Regions from separate parts of the Homo sapiens genome. Here regions 2, 3 and 4 are each linked to region 1. The links come from fine-mapping of genetic effects on gene expression. A gene starts in region 1. Each other region holds a variant in brackets. All regions are shown on one strand. Distances are between the middles of the regions.

What was found. PIP is the estimated chance that this variant, and not a neighbour inherited with it, causes the effect.
Region 2: its variant is fine-mapped to the expression of MINAR1 in pancreatic islets (PISA, PIP 0.95).
Region 3: its variant is fine-mapped to the expression of MINAR1 in whole blood (TOPMed, PIP above 0.99).
Region 4: its variant is fine-mapped to the expression of MINAR1 in whole blood (INTERVAL, PIP above 0.99).

The regions. Positions count from the first base shown.
Region 1 is chr15:79,429,687-79,434,835 of GRCh38, forward strand. It overlaps MINAR1 (membrane integral NOTCH2 associated receptor 1), which reads left to right and starts at 2,650. Exons shown (of 4, transcript NM_015206.3): 1 at 2,650-2,854.
Region 2 is chr15:79,356,794-79,361,942 of GRCh38, forward strand. It overlaps a transcript of TMED3 not described here. Among named protein-coding and RNA genes, the nearest start is that of TMED3, 48 kb to the left of the region's middle. The variant A/C (reference allele first, on the strand shown) is at 2,312.
Region 3 is chr15:79,592,058-79,597,206 of GRCh38, forward strand. No RefSeq gene overlaps it. Among named protein-coding and RNA genes, the nearest start is that of TRC-GCA5-1, 150 kb to the right of the region's middle. The variant G/A (reference allele first, on the strand shown) is at 2,739.
Region 4 is chr15:79,364,836-79,369,984 of GRCh38, forward strand. It overlaps a transcript of TMED3 not described here. Among named protein-coding and RNA genes, the nearest start is that of TMED3, 56 kb to the left of the region's middle. The variant C/T (reference allele first, on the strand shown) is at 2,436.

The sequences.
Region 1 (5,149 bases):
GTCATCCCCCAGCCCCTGCAAACTGAATGCCTTGGGTCCATAGATAAATGGTGAATATAATTTAGTATCACTCTGGTGCAGTGAGTAGTGCAGACAAATAACCTTCACTTTTCCCCAGGTGGGGAAGATGGGCTGTGCACAAAGATGTCCACTGTGCGTGTGTGCAACGGGAGAGGGAGTCCAAGTTCCAGCCTCTTCCCAGAGAGGGGGGCATAGGAGGAGACAGCACCTGGCTGAGGTGTTACTGTATCTGTGTCCACTTGGGGAGGGGTGAGTGGCCACAAGTGAGAGGAATACCTCCCAAGGCTTGAATGAGGGCTTCTGGGGCAGGCTTACAGAAATCAGTAGCCAGGAGGGGAAAAGGGCAACCACTTGAATCCTTTGTGTCTGTAAACACCACTAGCCAACTCTGGCTGGAACTGAGTAACTGTAGGATCAGAAAGCTCTAATCTGCATTTTCCTTTTATGCTGTTTCAAATTTTAAAAGTTGTTTTCCAAAAGGGTTATTTCAGAAAGAAATTAAATAAACCTCTAGCCGACCTCAGCTGAACTAAGGGAGGGAAAAGCAGATTTTTACTGAATCTGAGTTTCAGGAAGCTATGGTTTTTCCTTCTAGAATGTGGTCTCTGTGGTAGTATTTCATGAAGAAACAGGAGAAAAAACAGGAAAGAAGAACTCAAAGCAAAAGAAAAGGCAGATCCCACGCAGCTTCCTGTCCTAATTGTTCCATGTGGATTCAACTGTTCTCGGTTTTGGGAGAAATATATACTTGTTCAGGTCTCAAATAATCTGCCCCTGAACTCAAAGGACAATGAGGCCCCCAAACAGTCTTTAGCTATTACCAAACAGGCTTCTTACCCTGGGGACCCCCTTTACTCCTTAAGCTTATGCTCCCTTTTGCCACAAACAATATTGGGACCCAAAGACAGAGCCAGCACTACTTACAAATTTAAAATCACTAGGCAAGGTACAGTGAATCAAACAAACTTCACTCCTACTTTACATTTTCAAATCCGTTTGCCCTTACTAGAATAGGTTTGAACTTGCCTCACAATAAGGTAATAAAGGCAAATGGATTTTAAAAACTTGGGCAGAGAGGAGCTCTGGGAAAATCTAGTTGTCAACACGTATCACCCTGATAGGGCGTTATTTAAAGTATCCATTTATTAGCAAGTTCACTTTTGTTTGCTTGTTTTGTTTTTAAAAAACTTTTTATTAGGTAAAATTTGAACATGCACCAAAAAATAGAATCAGATAATGAATCTTGGGACTAGCTGCAAGTTCACTTTTAAAGCGTTGTTGCCACCCACATCCAGACAGCTGAGGGAGGCTGAGACTGAGATCTGCGTCCCCCCAGGGCCTTTGCTCCGATCACAGGTAGCAAATGTCAGGGAGAAGCTGGCCAGGGAAAAGCCGCCACAGCCCCCGAGAGGGCTCTGTCCCTGGGGAGGTATGCTCCTTAGCAGCTCTGTTCGGTAACTCGGTGGCAGGGAAGGAGGTGGGGTGGTGGGGGTGGGGGTGTTGCTTTCCTTTTGAAATGAGATTCCATGGCCCCGAAACTATGATTCCCTCCCTCACCCTTTTTGTTTGTGTTGTTCTTGTCTTGGGGATGCAAAGTGCTGTTAACGTGAGCTTCCCCAGCCACAGGGACAGGATCTGTCTAGATGGGGCCACCAGAGGCAGCTGCTGTGTTTCGGCTCCACTCCAGCACACAGGGTGACACGGAAGGCCTCCATTTCTGATCCATGTATCCAGTAAGCTTTTGGAAACCCATCCCAGTTTCGTGGGGTTTGGGGGTGTGTGAATGAGTGAGTATGTGTGTGTGTGTGGGGGGGGAGAGAAACAGGGAGGGGTGGTCACGTGACAGTCTTTCCAATCTGGATCCCAATTAAGCCGACACCAGCCAAAAGAAGAAATCAGTGAGTGAAGTGACCACTTGGCCCTGGCCTTGCAAACCACTGCAGAGTCCGAAGCCCCGAGTGCTCCCTGGGAAGAGGAGAGCCGAGGACACTCTTCGCCCCTGCTTGCCACTGGGGGCCGCAGTCACCTTCAGCATAGGGGAGTGGGGAGACGCGAACCCCGCGGGTGGCTCCGGGTGGTGGGCTCCCTCCAGCGCGCAGCTTCCGCTCGCTTTCCCCTCGGCGCTGCAGCCGCGACCTGGGACCGAACGGACACCGCCTTCCCGGGGCTCCGGCGGCGCTCTGACTCCCACTTTCCTCCGCCGCAGCCTCTGGCAGGGCACCCCCTTGGCGCGACGCCGCGCCCCTCCCCGGGACCGCCCCCTCGGTCCCCCAGGGTGCGCTCAGTTGCTGCCCGTGCGCCCCGCCAGCTTGAGCGCCCCGGGCGGGCGGCGGTGGAGAAGCCCAGCCCAGCTCTCCCCAGCCGCGTTCCCGGCCCGCGCTGCTCCCAGCCTGCAAGCCCATGACGTGGCGACGCCGACCGAGACACAAAGACCGAGGCTGAGACCGCCAGGGGTTGAGGGTGAGGCCGCGTCCCGGGGCCGCTGGAGCGCGGGCGTCATGCGAGACTGTCCCGGCTGCGCGCCGCCCCAGAGGAGTCCGAGCGCCCCCTTCAGCCGCGGCGCGCTGGCCCTGGCCGGGACTGCAGCCAGGTGGGCGCCGCGCGTGTGAGCGCCGCGCGTGTGAGCGCAGACCTGGACTCGGGCGGCGGAGGCGAAAGTCGCTCCATCCGCGGGGTGCAACCCTGGGCGCGGAATCCGGGCTGCCGGGTGACAGTGACCAGCTGACTCTGGAGCCTACCGGAGGCGCGGCATCGGAGGCCGTGCGGACCACTGCCGAACAGCCGCTGGAGACCCGCAGAGAAGGGCGGGCCCTGCGCCCGGGGCGCCTCGGAGGTAAGTTCGGAGAGCCCGGGCCGGGCGGAGGGCGGGAGCGCACGAGTGTGTGTGTGTGTGTGTGTGTTCGCGGTGTGCCCGCGGCTCGGTGCACACGCGCGCGGGTTGTAAAGTCAGGAGCTGCGGGAGCGCCTCCCTGCCTCGGCTTGGCCCCGGAGCATTGCGGGCCGCGGAGGTGTGGGGGCCCTTGTCGCTGCGCTCAGGGCAGCGGCGGAAAAGGTGTGTGCGGATGCGGGGCGGGGCCGCACCTGGTGGACAGAGCAGGGATTCGGGAAGAGAAGCCACGGAAGATGATCATGCAGTTTGGGGCAAGTTTTCCTGGTTGAGCATCGCTTCAGGAAACGGTGTTTTGAGGGTTAAATATGTGAGCTATCTGTGCAAAAAGCCTGACACATCAGAGGCGCGAAGTAAGATGGAAAGCTGGACAAGCCCCAGGTGGACCGACCGGTGCATCCAATTCTTAAATTGAGATTTCCAGTCACGTTGATGTGGAATGGGATCGTTGTTCTTCCCGAGGGTTTGATAAGGATGCTCAACTTCACCTGTCAGAAAGCACGGGAGCTGGGCCTGGCCCGCGGGGAGCGTAAGCTCGCTCACACGCGGTCCAACTCAGGCAAATGCAGCATGCCCGACCTGCTCTGCCGCCATCCCTCCGAAAGCGATAATTTCCTTGGGCTACCGAATCCATCAGAGTAGTCATTTGTCCCCTCGCCGGCGGTGCGGGGAGCGTAACATTTGAGTAGCCTAACTCTCACAGCGCGCACTCCAGCATTGTTTTGCTGGAAGATTGTTACTGTGGTAAGCGGCTGGTAGCCTGTGTTAAGCAGCAGGGAAGATAAGGTTGTGTTCAGGTGCGCTTAATTCAGCGGGAATTAAGTTATGTTTGGTGAAGATCTAAGGAGAGGAAAAATCCAGAGTTTCTGCTATAAACAATGTACATCTATCTTAAAGGCTTCTCACCCATTTCTCTTGTGGATGGAGCCATGTGGTTGGGAGGTGGTAGAACCATGCCGCCATCCCTGAGGCTGTGGTTGGAGGCCTCATTGCTGGGCTCTGCAATTTTATGCTCTGTGATATTATGCATGGCATGAAGAGTTGCTAGGAGGAGTGTGGAAGCAGCTTATGTGGCCAGTTATGCATCCTTTATTCCAGCAAACGAGCTGCCACTGCTACCTCTCTCTGATGGAGAGGGACGGTAAATGGCCCTTCCTTGTCATTTCTCAGACACCAGCATTACTGGGCCCGCCCTGCAGGTGGAAGCTAGCTCACTGCTGTGGCCACAGGATGTCTTTTGAATTGACCCTCATTGAGAGCCCGGCGGCAATATTTTGGGTATTGTTGAAATAAGAGAAGTGGATTAGAGAGAGTAGGATGCCTGGAGTTGTACAATACCCTTTAATGGGTTTTCCTCTTGTGTATCAGAGGAGGGTAGAGCAGGAGACGGTGGTGAGTCTGCAGAGAGGGCAAACTTAGAGATTTTCTCAGGCTACTGGAGCCTGGAGGGAAAAACCTTAAATGTCTGATAAATAAAGTCTGATTTTTATTGTGTGTGTCTGAGAGACTTGCATAGATCAGGGAGTATGTGAAAATAAATGTCAGTTGCCAGAGAAAGAATAGATCAAACAGTTTATTTGAATTTCTGATGAGTTTGGTGAGGAAGTGTATAGCACTTAACATTTGGAAGGCAGACAAAAGGTTTTGTTGTTGGTGTTATGTTCCTTTTGAATTTTAGATACATAATGCGATTTTTTTTCTGGCCAATGCTCCAGGCAAAATTGATGTCTTTCCACTTTCTAAAACCCATCATATTTATGAACTCTCTGATACTCTGTCTGAAACAGTCGTGCTCCTGTGAGGTTGAAATATCTCTCCTGCCTCTATTCACAGCAGACGCACAGAACTGATCTGGGAATTTTCTCACTCAGGATTCCCAAAATGAGCCCTTTCTCAAATCTTGACAAACGTGCAGCAGAAGCCATTGTTGCAGTTATGGCTCTGTGCCTGCTGGGCAGGGATTTAAAGGCCAGGAGAAGGCAGGGGAAGGCCCTGCTCTCTGCTCCAGCCAGGTGGTAATATGCATTCTCAAACTAGCTAGGAAAAGGTTCTAGATTCCTCAGTGAATCTATTGCTGAATCCCACTGATTAGCTTTTCCCACTGACAGACATTCAAATCTTTGTTTTTGGAGCTTCCTCTGCAGACTTGGTGTAAATTTCAAAAAAAGAAAAGAAGGCTATGAAGCTTAAGACAGGCAGAGACAGTTGGCTTCCTACCTAGGCATGCTTCAAACTCACTAT
Region 2 (5,149 bases), 73 kb before region 1:
TAGAGATATTCACTGCAGCATTATTTATAACCTCCCCAAACTGAAAACAATCCAAATATTCATCAGTAAGTTAAATAAGGTAAGATATGCAACACTGTGGAATATTATGTAGGCATTAAAATAAGAGGGACATTTACATGTGCAGACATAGACAAGTGTGCTTGATCTATTCCGGGAAACAAGGGAAAGCAAACTGAAAAACAGAATGTGTAGTATGAACCCATTTAAAATAAAAAGAATATACACATAAACACAGTTATGAACAAACATATAAACATATACAAATATGCATATGTTTATATGTGTATGAGCATTTGAAAAGATACACCAGCTTAATAGCTAATACTTCTGGAGAAGAGGATCCATTTTCTATGTTATACTCTTTCATATTTTAAAAAAACAAGCACACGGCTGGGCATGGTGGCTCGTGTGTATAATCCTGGCATTTTGGGAAACTGAGGTGGGAGGATCGCTTGATCCCAGGAATTCAAGACCAGCCTGGGCCACATAGTGAGACTCCCATTTCTACAGAAAAAAAAAAAATTGCCAAGCATGGCAGTGCATGCCTGTGGTCCTAGCTACTTGAGACGCTGAGGCAGTAGGATTGCTTAAGCCTGGGAGGTTGAGGCTGCAGTGAACTGTGATTGTGCCACTGCACTCCACCCTGCCTCAAAAAAAAAAAAAAAAAAAAAGCAAGCACATTATTACATTATTAATTTTAGAATTTAAACTTTTTTTTTTTTTAAAGCAGAACACGTCTTCTTGAACTAGTGTTATACCTCCTTCTCCTTGGGGTCCTATTGTCTGTGAATGTAGGCTCATCTCCTACTGGGAGGACTGCCGTGCTGGGGGCATTTGGAGTCTGGGCCACTGTAGAGGGAGCTGGCGGCCCTCCGCTCTGTGTATTGAGTCCACTCTGATTTCAGTTGATTGCAAAGGCAGTTGGAAGAACACTGGCTGGGAAATCAGGAAGCATGGCTGTACTTCTTAGTAGTTGCAAAGGACTGAAAAACTCACTTCCCTTTTCTGAGCCTCAGCTTTCCCATCTGGGAAGTTAATGCATTGGTTTATACCATTGTTTAAGTCCCTGCATGCCATCATACCCTAGGATTCTTTGGTCTTGTGAGTCTAAGTCTCCAATTGCTCTGTTTGAAAATTCTGTATCAACATCCTTCTTGGGAGATGTAACACACTATTAATGTACCCGTCTCGGCTTCTCTGTGAGCATACGTTCATTTATCAGATAAATCAGCAATCAGCAAGTTGACCCTAACGGGATGGGCCACTGAAGCATGCCTGTTTATGTCATGAGGGGAAGACCAGAGTATGGAGGTCAGTCCTACTCGTTGTCTTCCATCAGAGGCCCAAGGCACTGGATAGCGCAGTGAGCAGAGCCAGGCTGGGAGGAGGCTGTGTCCGAGGAATTTTCTGGGGGCCTGCTGTCTCACAACCCTGTGAACAGCCAGGAGAAGCAGACAGCTGCAAGGTCAGGACTTGAGGCCAGCACCTTCAAGTGTGACATCATTTTGCCACTTCAAAGCATAAAACTTTAAATGGCTCACTTTTTATTTCTGAGGTTTCAGACAACAACCCTACTGTGTGTGTCTAGGCAAATGGTTCAGGGATGCTGCTGACAGAAGAAAATTATGTTTGGCTGTGGATTGCAGTCTAGACTGAGCAGGTTGAGAGTGACTGGTACCTGGCTGGGATGGAAGCTGGGGATGGTGGGGGTGGAGTCTGTCTCTTGTGACAGCCATCTGTAGGATCCAACTTCAAGATTAGGAGGTTAACAGAAGCATCCCTCAGGCCCATCCCGAAGGAGATCACGGGTCCACCCTAGGACCTCTGACCACTGCCTTCCAGTTAACAGTATTTCCATCAGTGGATATTCAGCAAAGAAAAAATACTTTCTAAGACCCCAACATTTTCTTATTTGCCTGATGCTTAAAACGAAATTTCATAGAAAGCAGGCAGCTTCCATGCAGCTTTCCCTGGGGTGAAATGGCTGGGCCTATTTGCTCCTTGAAGGAAAAGTTTGCTGTGAACTTCTCAGATAAGTGGGTGGTGGATAGCAGGGACAGGAGAGCCGTGGCCTGGACAGGGTTCCTGATTCCTCCAGTCTGGATCAGTCTGAGGATAACTAAGAAAGGGAGTGGGGATGGGAAGGGGCTTTTTGCATGCCAAACCTGCATCTACTGGGAGTGCAGTGGCTGGAACAAGAGAGAGTGCAGCAGCACCTCATCTATCAGGAGTACAGCTCTGGCCATCCCAGGAGAGGCACTCAGACAAATTGGATTCTGCCCACGGGGGA[A/C]GACAAGGGAAGTGAGGAGGCTTATGTAGCTGGAAGGAACAAAATTGCAACTCAAAACAAAAGTGGACTGTGTGCTTATTTGCATACCAGAGGAGAGGTACAGTTTATTTGAAGGAGAAGGCTCAGTTTTTTTTTTTTTTTTTTTTGAGACGGAGTCTTGCTCTATTGCCCAGGCTGGAGTGCAGTGGCGCAATCTCAGCTCACTGCAACCTCCGCCTCCCAGGTTCAAGCCATTCTCCTGCCTCAGCCTCCCAAGTAGCTGGGATTACAGGCACCCACACCATGCCTGGCAAATTTTTGTATTTTTAGTAGAGACAGGGTTTCACCATTTTGACCAAGTCTCGAACTCCTGACCTCAAGTGATCTGCCCACCTCAGCCTCCCAAAGTGCTGGGATTACAGGCATGAGCCACTATACCCGGCCAATTTGAAGGGGAAGGCTCCTTATATAGAAAAATCAGCTGAGAGGTGAGTCTCCCTGTCCAGGGCATGACCTTTTTAAGGGTAAGGGGAAAAAAAGAGGAATAAACAGCTCCACAAATAAATGGTATAGAATTTGGGAGTTGTTTCTGACAGCTGAAGAGATTGAGAGATCAAGGTCTCAGAAAATGGAGAGAAAGCACGTATAGTATCAAAAAGTTAACAATCAGCTGATCACACCAAGCAAAAGGAATAAGTGAGTAAATACAAGTAAAGCCCTTATTATTATACATGCCTGGAATAGCGAAAGCCCTAGGTAGTAGCTATTATCTCCCTTCTTCTTCTGCCCGTGGGTCTACACAGAACAGGTCTTGCTCTTATGCTTCAAGAATGCCCTTGGGAGGAATGTCTGATAAATTTTTAGGACATTAAAGTCTAATGATGAATATAGTGTCTTGCCTGTACTTTACTATGTTATACTCTTCCACTGTTACCCAAAACCTTTAGCAAAACTGTAGTAAATCCAATCTCAATTGTTAGTGAGACTGCGGGAAGAAAAAGTTAGGATCTGGGGCCATGGACAGGCACAGCGGGTCAGTGAGAGGGCAGGTAGCCATGGGATCCGAGAACAATAGCCAGGAGCATGCCACAGAGTGCAGCAGGTGCAGGAGGACCCCCAAGATGTTGAATCCACCTAGAAATTCACACAACTGTTGAGGGTTGAGCTGGGTGTGGGGTGGGCTCCACACAGAATGTGGGATGGAATCTTGAGCCATCTTACATGGATATTAAAGTAGAGGGCCCAGGTTTCTGTGGGATAGACTTGGTCATGCCATCGAGGAACCAGGGGTGTTTAGGTGGGGAAGCACTCTTCAGGGGTCACATAGCTACTGTCTTCTATCAAAAGGACATTCCTGACGCATAAGAAAGACTTGTTTTGTGTAGACCCAAGGGCAGAAGAGAAAGGGCAATAATAGCTACTAACTGAGGACTTTTGCTATTGCAGGCATTGTTACAAATTTACTCATGTATTCCTTACAACAGTACACTGTAGTGTGTCACTGTAAAACAGACATCTTTACATATCGTTAGACCGCGACATCCCAACAGCAGTGCCTTAAGTGGATTATATATGTCCAGCGATGCAGGTGTCCAAAAGTGATCAGAGTCCCAGGCTGGCTGTCCACTCTACGTGTCGTGACAATGCTGATACTATCATTTTCTGTGTGTGCCATAAAACGAAAAACAATAGTGGAACATTGATTTAGACAGTATGCTACAGAATCACTTAAAACGAATACATAATATTCCATGTAATTTATTTTTTTAATTTTTATATTTTTAGAGACAGAGTCTCACGGTGTCACCCAGGCTGGAGTGCACTATTGTGATCATAACTACTGCAGCCTTGAACTCTTGGGTTCAAATGATCTGCCTGCCTCAGCCTCCCAAGCAGTTACAACTACAAGTGCACACTGCTCAGCCTGGCTAATTGTGTTTTATTTTTATTTTTATTTTTTGTAGAGAGAGAGTCTTGCTATATTGCCCAGGCTGGTCTTGTACTTCTGGCCTCAAGCCATCCTCACACCTTGGCCTCCCAAAGTACTGGGATTACAGGTGTGAGCCACTGGGCCTGCCCATATGTCACTGATATTTTTAACCAATTCCAAGTGTTGAAGTTCCAATTCTGCCATTTGCTGGTGGTGTGGATTACAGAAGACTTAGGTTTCGGTAGCCTAAGTTTCTTCGTTTGTAAAATAAGAATGATAAAACTTATCTCATATGATTTTTGTGAGGATTAAGTGAGGTAACTCAGGTAAAAGAATTTTATTTTACATTTTAAAACTATTTAAACATTCAATATATACGATGGAACACTACTCAGCCATAAAAAGGGATGAATTAATGGCATTCACAGCAACCCGGGTAACTCAGGAATGGAAAACCGAACGTCATATGTTCTCACTTATAAGTGGGAGCTAAGCTATGAGGACGCAAAGGCATAGAATGACACAGTGGACTTTTGGAACTCAGGAGGAAATGGTGAGAAGGGGATGAGGAATAAAAGATTACAAATTGGGTGCAGTGCTCAGGTGAGAGGTGCATCAAAATCTCACAAGTCACCACTAAAGAACTTACTCATGTAATCAAACACCACCTGTTCCCCAATAACTTATGGAAATAAAAAAATTAAAAAAAAAAAAATATTTAAACATTCAATATTATGACCAATACATATTTTGCCCAAATAATTACTAAATTAATGACCTGAAATTATGTCAAGAGAATCAAGTAAGCAACTTAGAATTAACAAGAGATTTCGGAATGTGTCCATTTATAAAATAAATGTAGAAAATTATTTTCCTTTTTTAAAAAAAGTATTAATCACTTGAACAGTAAAATAAAAGATCTAATTTAT
Region 3 (5,149 bases), 160 kb after region 1:
GGGCTGTGGGCTCCTGTAGGGCAAGCACTGTCTCCTGCTTGTCTCTGTATTCCAGGAATAGACACAGGCCCTGAGATGAAGTAAGCACTCGGTAATTGCTTATTGAATGAGTGGGACGGGCAATGGCTCTGTGTGGAGAGAGAAATAAAGAAATGACAACTTGAAGCACAATAACAGTCCTATAGGGGCTTCCTGAGACCCAGAACTCGTCTTTGATTTGAGTCCAGGCCTGGGAGCTTCTAAATGTCGCTCCCAGGACCCCAGCAACATCAGAGGTGGTGTTATTAACCTTAGCAAGACCGCTAAACCCTGGAACCATCCACTGAGATCCAGGTATGTTCCCCGGACTAGCAATCTCCTGGTCACAGAACTGCTGGAGCTTAGGAAGTAGAAGGAAGGTCTTCCTCCCCTAGCCCAACCAAGAAGAATGAGAGGGCCTCCTTCATCTCAGCTTCACAGAATCTATATCTCCAGCTCTTATGTACACACCACTCCACCATCACCCCACAAGGTTTCCAGTCCTGGCCCGTTACTTGTGTGCCTATTAGCTCCTAAATATTTTCCCTCTGTGGCTTCTGAGGGCCTCCAGAAGGGGTATAGCTTCTTGGCAAAGAAAACAGGTTTTGCGCTCCAAAGAACATGGATTTGAAACTTGGCTCCATCCCTTGCCAGCACTATGCACTCAAGCAAGGTGCTTACTCTCTCTATGCCTCAGCTTCTCTATCTGTAGGGCAGGAGTAGGTATGGGATTGGGTTGAGCCTAAGTGAGACACTACACATAAAGGGCTTAGCATACCCAAAGAGAGTGCCCAATAAATGGTGGTTGCAACAACAACAAAAATCATTCTTTGCTAGCAGTAAGAACAGAGTCTAATAGGAAGACAGAAAAATTAAAAAACAGAACAATTATCATGCAGTATGGTAAGTGGTAGAATAGAAATAGAAAGAAGCTCTGGGAGCCATGGTAACCCAAACAGAATTGGTGATATCTACCTGTAATGTAAAAGCTGTGTCAGGCAAGTGTCAGGAGTGGGGTTGGGGCTGCACGTTGATAATCTAGAGACAGAAGCAAAGCCTTTATGGAAAATTACAACAGTTCAATAGAGTCAAGAGAGGGCCAGAGCAGTGGGTACTGCCTGAAACATGAAGCCAGAGGCCAGAATGCTTAGTTTTGGTCTTCCCTAACCTGCTGGGATTTGCTCCAGCTGCAGGACTAGGCTTCTGCCTCAGTGCCCTGACTGCACTGCAGCTCCACCGTGTGTTGAATTTGCCAGAGACCATCTTGCAATTTCTTCTTTAGAGCCTACAGTAGGTAATTTTCAGAGGAGTCTTCTTTCCTCTTTGTCTGTCTGGTGCTGTTCTCCATCTTTTATTTTGCAAGATTTTTGTTAGAACCCCTTTCCCACCCCTGCTCTTCTTCACTCTTCCTTAACCAGGCAAGATATGTTTAAAGAAGGGAATTGTCAAAAGACAAGGTGAGCAGATTGCTCTTGACCTGACTTTCTGTCTCCTTGTGAAATAACCAAATACTTTTCTCTGATTACAGCAGAACGTAAATTGACATGCACACATCCCAGTGTAGTTCCCAATTCCAGGCGACTTCCACCTACTGGAAGTACTTTGAAATTACTGTTCCCAGCATACATTACTTTCAGAGGGTTCTGGGTCTTTCAGGAATTGCACCTTCTGGAATTCACGGGTCACTTCCTTTTCTACTTACCTTGGAGCTGTTTTGGGGGAGTTTGCAATCAATAAGGAAAAATAGTGGGTGGCCCATCAGAAAACAACAGCCAGGCAATTTCATATATCAGGCTAACAGATCAGCAATTTTCTAGGTCGCACATCCTTGGTCTCTGAATCAAGGGACAGATAAAGGAGGCAGCTATGAACCATTTTGCCAGCAGTATTCAGGTGGCCTTGGTACCCAACTCCTTTCCAGCCTGCAGAGCAGAATGAGTAGAAATGTTCCCAATCCACCAGGTATGACAATCCCCCCAGAGGCAGCATAGAAAGGGGCCACGTGGATGAGAATAAAAGATGCCTTTGCTCTGACCTGTGTGGATTCATCATCAAGAACCTTGTCCACCTCCCAACAGCTACATACATGCAAAAGCCTTGACACCCCAACTGACGGAAGTTAAGTTTCCTCTGCTCTCGTACCACATGAGCTAAAATAGAACTAAGTTGGATCATGAACACAAAGGTGCATTTCTTGCACACCTGAGTTTGCAGTGTGAGATTTATTGACTCTATGCTGCTTACCAGCTAGACTGGGACACCTAACATAGGGGTCTACGTCTCATTCTCCTTTATGTCTCTGGTGTTTCTCATAATATTAGGCACATATAAGTGCTCAATGGATGTGTATTAAATAATCATTTTAAATTTTAAAATATTCTCAAGTATCTTAGCATATTTAATTGACATTCTCAACTCACCATCTGACTGGGAACTCCTCAAGAATAAATCCTGTGCTTTTGCCTCTGTATTTCTGATGTTGTGCTCAAGTCTGGGAACATGGGAAACAGACACTCAGATGCTAGCTGATCAAAGTAATGGGCAAATAAGCGAATGAGATAGTGTACTGGGCTAAGAGAGGGAACGGTCTGCCAGAGAGTTGAGTTTGAAACCCATTTCTGAAACTTACTGGTTGCGTGATGTAGGTGAGTTACATAAGCCTGATTTCCTCATCCGTAAAGTGGAGATAATAATATCTATTACACAAAAATGTTTTGAAA[G/A]TAAAGTTTAAAACGACAGCATTTGTGAAAGAACTTTGCAAGTCAAGGCATGCAGAAGGCATTTTAAAAATATGAAAAACAAACCATCAAAAATCTTACTCATTGATTACTTACGAATATGCCTTTTGAAACATTCATTTTTCCCAGATACAAAACAAGAATAATAGTCCCTGTCTCTGTAGAATGAGATCAGCTTGGGATTTCTTAAATGTGCATACAGTAAAACTGTAATCTTTGTTTAAAAAAAAGCAAAATAAATTCTTATTATCCCCCAATATTAATACTAACATTAAGGTTTCTCTAATGGTATTCCATAATATTATCTTTTATACAGAAACCCAAAGTCGGCATCTAAAATGTTTATTTAAAAAATTGAAAATGTTAAGACCTGTAGCAAGCACATTATCATTAGATTTTCTGACATTTTGATTAATAAAATATCACCAGTCTGCTCAGATACATACTATAAATCATCTTCCAGACACCTGGACAGGCAGCATCCCTGACAGCTGTTCCCACAGCCAGGAGTGGTGTCAGAGTTGGTGGGTGCCTCACCTCGGAAGCTATGACACATATAAACACATTGAAAAATGCAATAATTAGAAGCAGTGCAGTCAGGTTGCAAAATGGCAGGACGAGGGGTCTCCTTGAAGGCCCCTCTGTGCTTCCCAGGAGGAGTCAAGTGCATTCGGCGACATTTGAGGTGACACCGGCCAGGTCGAGAATTGCACAGATGGCTTCCCAGACTGTGTGCTTCCTTTTCTCCACTGCAGCCTCCAGGGGAGGATTGATTACTTTGTTCAAAAGGCAGAATCAGCAGATGTTATTGATATGGAACTCTATGGGACTGGAATTCTGTACTATGGATAGCACATGAGGCTTTTTTTTTTTTTTTTAAGCCAAAGCAGCATTAGTGGAGGCTTTAAAAATAAGCCACAGTTCCCGTTTTAATGGATTCAGTGTTAGGTCATGTGCACAATCTGTTATTTAAAATGTGCATTTACAGGCCGCTGTTGAAAATACCTGCTTTTAAAATGCCTTGGGCTTCAGACTTGCTACGTAGGGCAAGACTCTGTCACAAGAGTTGTCTCTTTCATCAGCGTCTGTCTTTCCTGCTCAACTGGAGACACTGAACTCCCTACCACAGACATCTTTTCTGGGACAAGTATATTTGTCTCCTTTTTGTCTCTGATGATGAAGGAGAAAGAGTGTAAGAATATGAGACACTGGCCAATGACAGTAAAACGATCTAAAAAGAAATAAGCCAAGAAATTACAGTTTAAACCTCTTTCTTGTGCACACTCTGCCTCCTAAGAGTGCGATCCAATCACATGACCTCTCTGCCCCATCAGCTTTACTCCCCCGGTCCACCCTGTGAGGTTCTTCAGCTCCCCCTAGAGGCTGGAGTATGTTATGAGCAGGAACCACAGCTTCACCTGTGGGTAGGAGCCCATGGTCCACCCTGTGAGGTTCTTGAGCTCCTCCTAGAGGCTGGAGTATGTTATGATCAGGAACCACAGCTTCACCTAGACTTCTGTGGCCAAAGATTTAGTATCCAGGAAGAGCATCAGACACTCCTATGTCCATCGGGTCAGAGTCTTTCCTTGACCTTCTCCTTCTTTTCTGCATCCAACAAAGTTGATGCTTCAATTCTCTTTCCTGGCATTCTTGGCTCATATCTGTTAGGCTGGGTATGGGGGAAAGATGCTAGACCCTGAGTCCAGTAGTTCCAACAGCTAGGTCCTGCTCTGAGTTGCTCACTCACTCAGAAACAAAATTTTCATGATCAAACTGCACCTTCTGTCCTTATGCCCCACTCATCAGAGCAGCCCTCCGGTGCCAGCCAGAACTAAGTCTAAATCAAGCCCTAATTATTATCTAATAAGCCTTGATCTCCCTCCCAGGGTCCCTTGCAGTAGGCACCATACTCCCAGGCCACAGTCCTGCCTGACCCCCACTCATCATCCCTTTCTATTGTTAGCTTTGGCTGCTGAGGTATCCATCCACCCAGGTGTCAAGATGACCAAAGACCCTCATTCAACAGATACTCACTCAACCCCTACCACAAGCCAGGACCTGTGCCCAGCATCCAGTCCCCAAAAGGAACATGATTCCTAGCCCCCACAAGCTCACAGTCTGGTACAGGTGAGGCACCGGTGAGTATTTTCTGTGAAGGGAGTTAAGTGCCAGCTCTGTTAGAGGGTAGCAGGAGGTCCTATGGGAGTATCACTGGAGGCTGACCAGCAGGACTGGGTTTCCCAAGAGGCAGACTGGGCAGACAGGCAAGGCAAGAACATAAAAGAATGGAGGAAAAAAATAAAAGAATATCGATCTATCCAAAAAGAAGCCTTGAATTATCATTATGGGAAAATCAGAATTTTTTGGACATTCTTACATAGATTTCATGGTTC
Region 4 (5,149 bases), 65 kb before region 1:
AGTAAAACCCCACATTCATCCTTCAAGCCCATGTGTGACTTGATTCTTCCAGGACACTGGGAAAGAGCTTGGGATACAGAAAGGTGTCACACCGGCCCTCTGCCCTTGCAAAAAGGCAGAGGGTCCATTGAACTGATTAACACTTAAGCTGTCTGCGGATGGCAGGGCTAAAAGGGCACACTGTAATGCATACCCACTTGGTCTCCTGCATCTGTCCCTCTGCATGCTCCCTCTCCCCTCAGGGGTTTGAGCAGCGGAGACGAGGGAACAGGCGATTCACACCCCTGCTGAATGTCCTGAGAGGGGGATCAGGGAACTCTCCTGTTTTGCTTTCAAATACATGGGGATTACACATTGGTTTGAACTAAAAAGACAGGACAGCTCAAAGCAGGGGCCCACAGGTCATAGGTGAATTCAGAGATTTTCTGATTTGTAACTGATTAAAGACGAGAAGCTTTGTCTAAAGACTTGGGGTCAGCAGAAAAGAATGTTAGGTCTGGCTTGTGGACATCACCTCCTCCAGGCCCCTCAGGAAGAAATTTAGAACAAAGAACGGCAGTGCAAACCAAAAAGTATCCGAGACAGGTCTCAATTAATTCAAAAGTTTATTTTGCCAAGGTTAAGGATGTACCCAGGAGACAAGTCTGTGCCTTTCTCCAAAGGTGATTTTGAGGGCTTCAATATTTAAAAGGGGAAAAGCAGACTGGAGGGGAAAGAAGGAGGGTATGGTCACATTACTGAATCCACGTGTTGCAAGAGAAAAGGAGCAGGTAGGGGAACAGTCAATTATGTGTCTGTCTGGTGCTCAGTAAATCAGCACTTTACGTAAGATAAGGTGAACGTAGAGTAGCTATCTGTGGAGATATTTAACCTTTTATCTGTAGCTCTCTGCTTAGGAGCAAAAGAAAAGGCAGCTTCTTGCATGACTCAGCTTTCAGCTTAATTTTTTCCTTTTGGCACAGAGATTTGGGGTTCCAAGTTTTTATTTTCCTTTCACAGCAGCAAGAATCCAGTCCTCTCGGTCCCTCCATATCTGAGGTCTGTGTGCCAGCAGATCCATTTGGTGGGGTCCGAGTTTCTGAAGAACAAGTCAGAGACATATGTTAAGATGTTATCTTGTGTGGAGTCCTAATTAGGGAAAAGGAGTCAGGCTGGCAGGACCAGAGGAAAGCAAAGAGATAAAGCAGACAAGCTATAGGTCTGCCTTTCTTCGTGGTTCAGGACATATAAACAAAAAGAGGGTGAGATAAGCTATAGGTCTGCCTTTCTTTATGACCCAGCACATAGGGCCCTCCTGTGTAGGTAATGTATATAGCTCACAATATCATCAAACACCTAGGTTGATGGAAGAATGCAAGTTACCTTCCTGCTACCTTGGCGTTATCAGTACTGTACACAGCACTCTGCAGCCCAAGAACTATCCTATAAAATCTCCGGGAAGCCTTTGTTTCTTTGCAGTCAGCTGCTCTCTTGCTGATTCTGCCCATTGCTCTCTTGCAACATTATTTTTATATGTTCCTAATGAATCTGCCTTTCTTTATCCACAACTGCCTTGGTAAATTCTTATACCCCTCAGCCACTGGCCCAGATAGTCACCGCTCATCCGCAACATTTAGTTTCTATAGAGAACCAAACATCTCATGATTAACTTCCATGGCTGTTGTTATAAGCTATTACCTTCTTGCTAATCAAATTGCTCCCTTACTTCTCAGGGCGAGCTAGGTGCCTGGAATTTCCCTTGAAGGAACTAAAGATTTTCCTTTATTTCCATGCTTGGTTCGGGGATAGTGCCCAGCAGGCTCCTAAGAGGGGTCCCTGCTCCATCTCACCATTATCCACATCTTTGGAAAAGCTGGCCATTTAGATCCTAAAGCTAAGCTCGTGGTGGCAGCTACTTGAATGTTAGGCACAGAGCCTGGGGATGGCTTCACAAATCTAAAGCTCCAAGGTGACGGTGAATGTCTTATTAGCTGTGTGACTTTGAGGAAGGAGTTGGACTCTTTTTCACTTTTCAGCATTCCAGCAGCCCTTTGTGTATTTAATGTGCTGCACTTTAAGGTGCATTTTTTTTTCTTTCATTAATATACAAGTGACTGGTTTTGACTCATCAGATGGAAACTTCCAAGTCAGTTGCAGAGAATAATGATGGCTAGGTCATTGTTTTCAAAAAGCACAGCACAATCTCAATTCATATTTACCTCAAGTGGAGCTGATTATAAACCAAGTTTCATTTTCTCCTGACCCCAGCTGCTGGGTCCTGAATTAGCTTTTTATTCTTCTTTCCGGGTGAAGGATTTAGGTGGAGACCTAAAGGCATCTTTAACCAAATGCATCTCATATGGTGCCTAACAAAGTCCAATATGATGCAGAACTAAAACAGAGTTGGTCAGCAGGTTACTGGATACTATAGAAAATTGGATTAGTGAAGTGGAAAT[C/T]ACTCCAGCACTCAGGTGGTGTTATCAAATCAAACTTGAAGTCTTCTCACCTGGTGCAGTAGGACCAGCGATCCACACTGGGTTTGCAGTGGGAGAAAGGGAGGTTTTTATTTGTAGGGCACAAAGCAAGGAAGATTGGGAAGCTAATGCTTCAGTCCTGACACCCAAATCCTGGCAGCATCTAACACCTCTTCCTTAAACTCTCCCCTAAAACACCTAATGCAAGCCCAAGTCCTATCATAGGTCTTTTCTAACACTCTCTTGCAGAGGTACCCCACAGTTCCCAGAGCGTGCAAGCTCCCTCAGAGCAAGAAGTAAACCCCACCTGTTCCACCACAGGTGTTCTGGATGGTCTTTGGCTGAGGTGTTGACACTTACATCTCCGAATATGCTGCCAGCAAAGGCTGTTGGACAACCCGATGGGTTGCAGGTACAGGATTTTTAAAGGCAGGGGTAAATTTCAGAAAAGTAGAAGTTACATGTAAAGTAATAAATCAATACGTGGAAATTGCACATTGGTTTTGCCCTAAAGGGTTAAATGTCTTGAAACAGGGTCTTACAGATCAAAGGTAGATTCAAAGATTTTCCGATTTGCAATTTGTTAAGGAAGAGAAGCTTTGTTGAAAAATTTGAGGTCAGTAGAAAAGAATTAGCTCTGTTTGTGAGTATACCTTTATCCAGGCCCCTCAGGAAGTAATTTAGAAGAAAGAATAGTGGTCAGAGCTCAGTCCTCAGCTCCCCATTGCCTGGGGTCTCAGTGCCAGTGGATCCATTTGGTGGGGACCCAGGTTTCTGAAAAACAACTCAGGGACGTATGTTAGGATGTTGTTTTTAGTTTCTATAGGAGAACCAAACATGTGATTCTGGCTTCTTTAGCTATTATTTTAAGTTACTATTACCTTCTTGCTTATCAAGTTCCTTATTTCTTTCTGAGGGCCAGCTAGGTGCCTGGAATTTCCCTTGAAGGAACTCAAGATTTTCCTTTACTTTCATGCTTAGAGCTTATTTTCAAGCTTTCATGCTTTTTTGATCATAATTCCCAATGGATGGTCAGAATCCAACATACTTTGCTGGCAGCAGATTGGAAGTTGGAAGTGTTAATGCTCCAGCCAAAGACCACTGAGAACTCCTTTAGTGAAAAAGGTGGGGTTTGCTTCTTGCTGTGAGGGAGCTTGCACACTGTGGGAATTATGGGGTACCTCTGTAAGATAGTGTTAGAAAGGACCTATGATAGGACTTGGGCTTGTATTCAGTGTTTTTGGGGAAAGTTTAATTAAGGAAGAGATGTTAGATGATGCCAGGAATTGGGGGTTAATTCTATGTTTGGGTATCTTAATAAATCTAATCTAGAAGGAGAGAAAACTAGGTGAGGCCAAAACTGTAATTGGTAAAGAAGCAGTAGTCAGTCATATTGTAACTGAGCACCTCCATTTTTTTAAGAGTTAGTTTAATTATTTTTAATCATTTTATTATTTTCTCTTCTTGTTCCCCTGATTTTCCACTTCCTACTTAACCCTTTAGAAATGCAAATATAAGGCTGGGCACAGTGGCTCACATCTGCAATCCCAGCACTTTGGGAGGCCAAGGTGGGCAGATCACATGAGGTCAGGAGTTTAAGGCCAGCTTGGCCAACTTGGTGAAACCCCATCTCTACTAAAAACACACGCAAAAAAAATTAGCTGGGCATGGTGGCACACGGCTGTAATCCCCGCTACTCGAGAGGCTGAGGCAGGAGAATCACTTGAACCTCGGAGGTCAGGTTGCAGTGAGCCGAGATCGCACCACTGTACTCCAGCCTGGGTGGCAGAGTGAGACTCTGTCTTAAAAAAAAAAAAAAAAAGAAATGCAAATATAGCCTTTTACCTCTTCTTCACCAGACATTCCCTACAGGGCAAGTTCGTCTAACTATGTTCTCCAAGACAGAACTTTCTTTGAGAATTAACAGTGGATTTATAAACAAAAGCATGCCCACTAGGAAACTCACCCACCAGGGGGTTGCCTCGAGAGATAATAGTTGAAAAACATGCCTGCTACTCTCTCCTACCTGGGTAGTTTTCAGCTTAGTCCTGCCCATGAAGATGCCAGCTATCACTAGCTTGACCGCCTGGTAAGTAAGGCACCAAGCTAACATGCAGACTGCCACCTTGCTGGCTTCCTCCCCTGCTTTTTAAAAGTGCCCACTTTCTGTTCCCAAAGCAAAGTGGTACATTTAAAGGTGGGATGCCTGTGCTTCTTCCCCTAAGCTGGCTTTGGAAATAAGTCCCTTTATACCAGACCTCGCTCTTGTTAATTGGACTCTGCAAGCGGTAAGCAACTAACCCGCATTTCAGTTACAATATTAGCCAGAATGGGGGAATGTTAGGTCATTTTTATGATTTGAACAGTGCTCATGTTTCGTCTGTGTTCACACATAATTATGGAGTAGTCTTGTTTTTGTCTTGGTCCATCATTGGCCCTGAGTAGCCCTGTTGGGTATTGATGTTCTGTGAAGTGGTTTATGTCTAACAGAACACCAAGGCCCTGCTGTGCCAGGCCAGCTCCTGGCTGTCAGGGGCCTCTTTGCTGTTTCTCAGAAGGAAGGGCGATCCTTTTTTTCCCCTTCTGCATCTGAAGTCACCTCCAGCAAGTGGCAATAGCAGGTCCCTGCTAGGGCAGCTTCCTGGATTCTGCTCAAGCAGGGCAGAAGTTGAGAGTTTCCTAGTGGGCATGCTTTG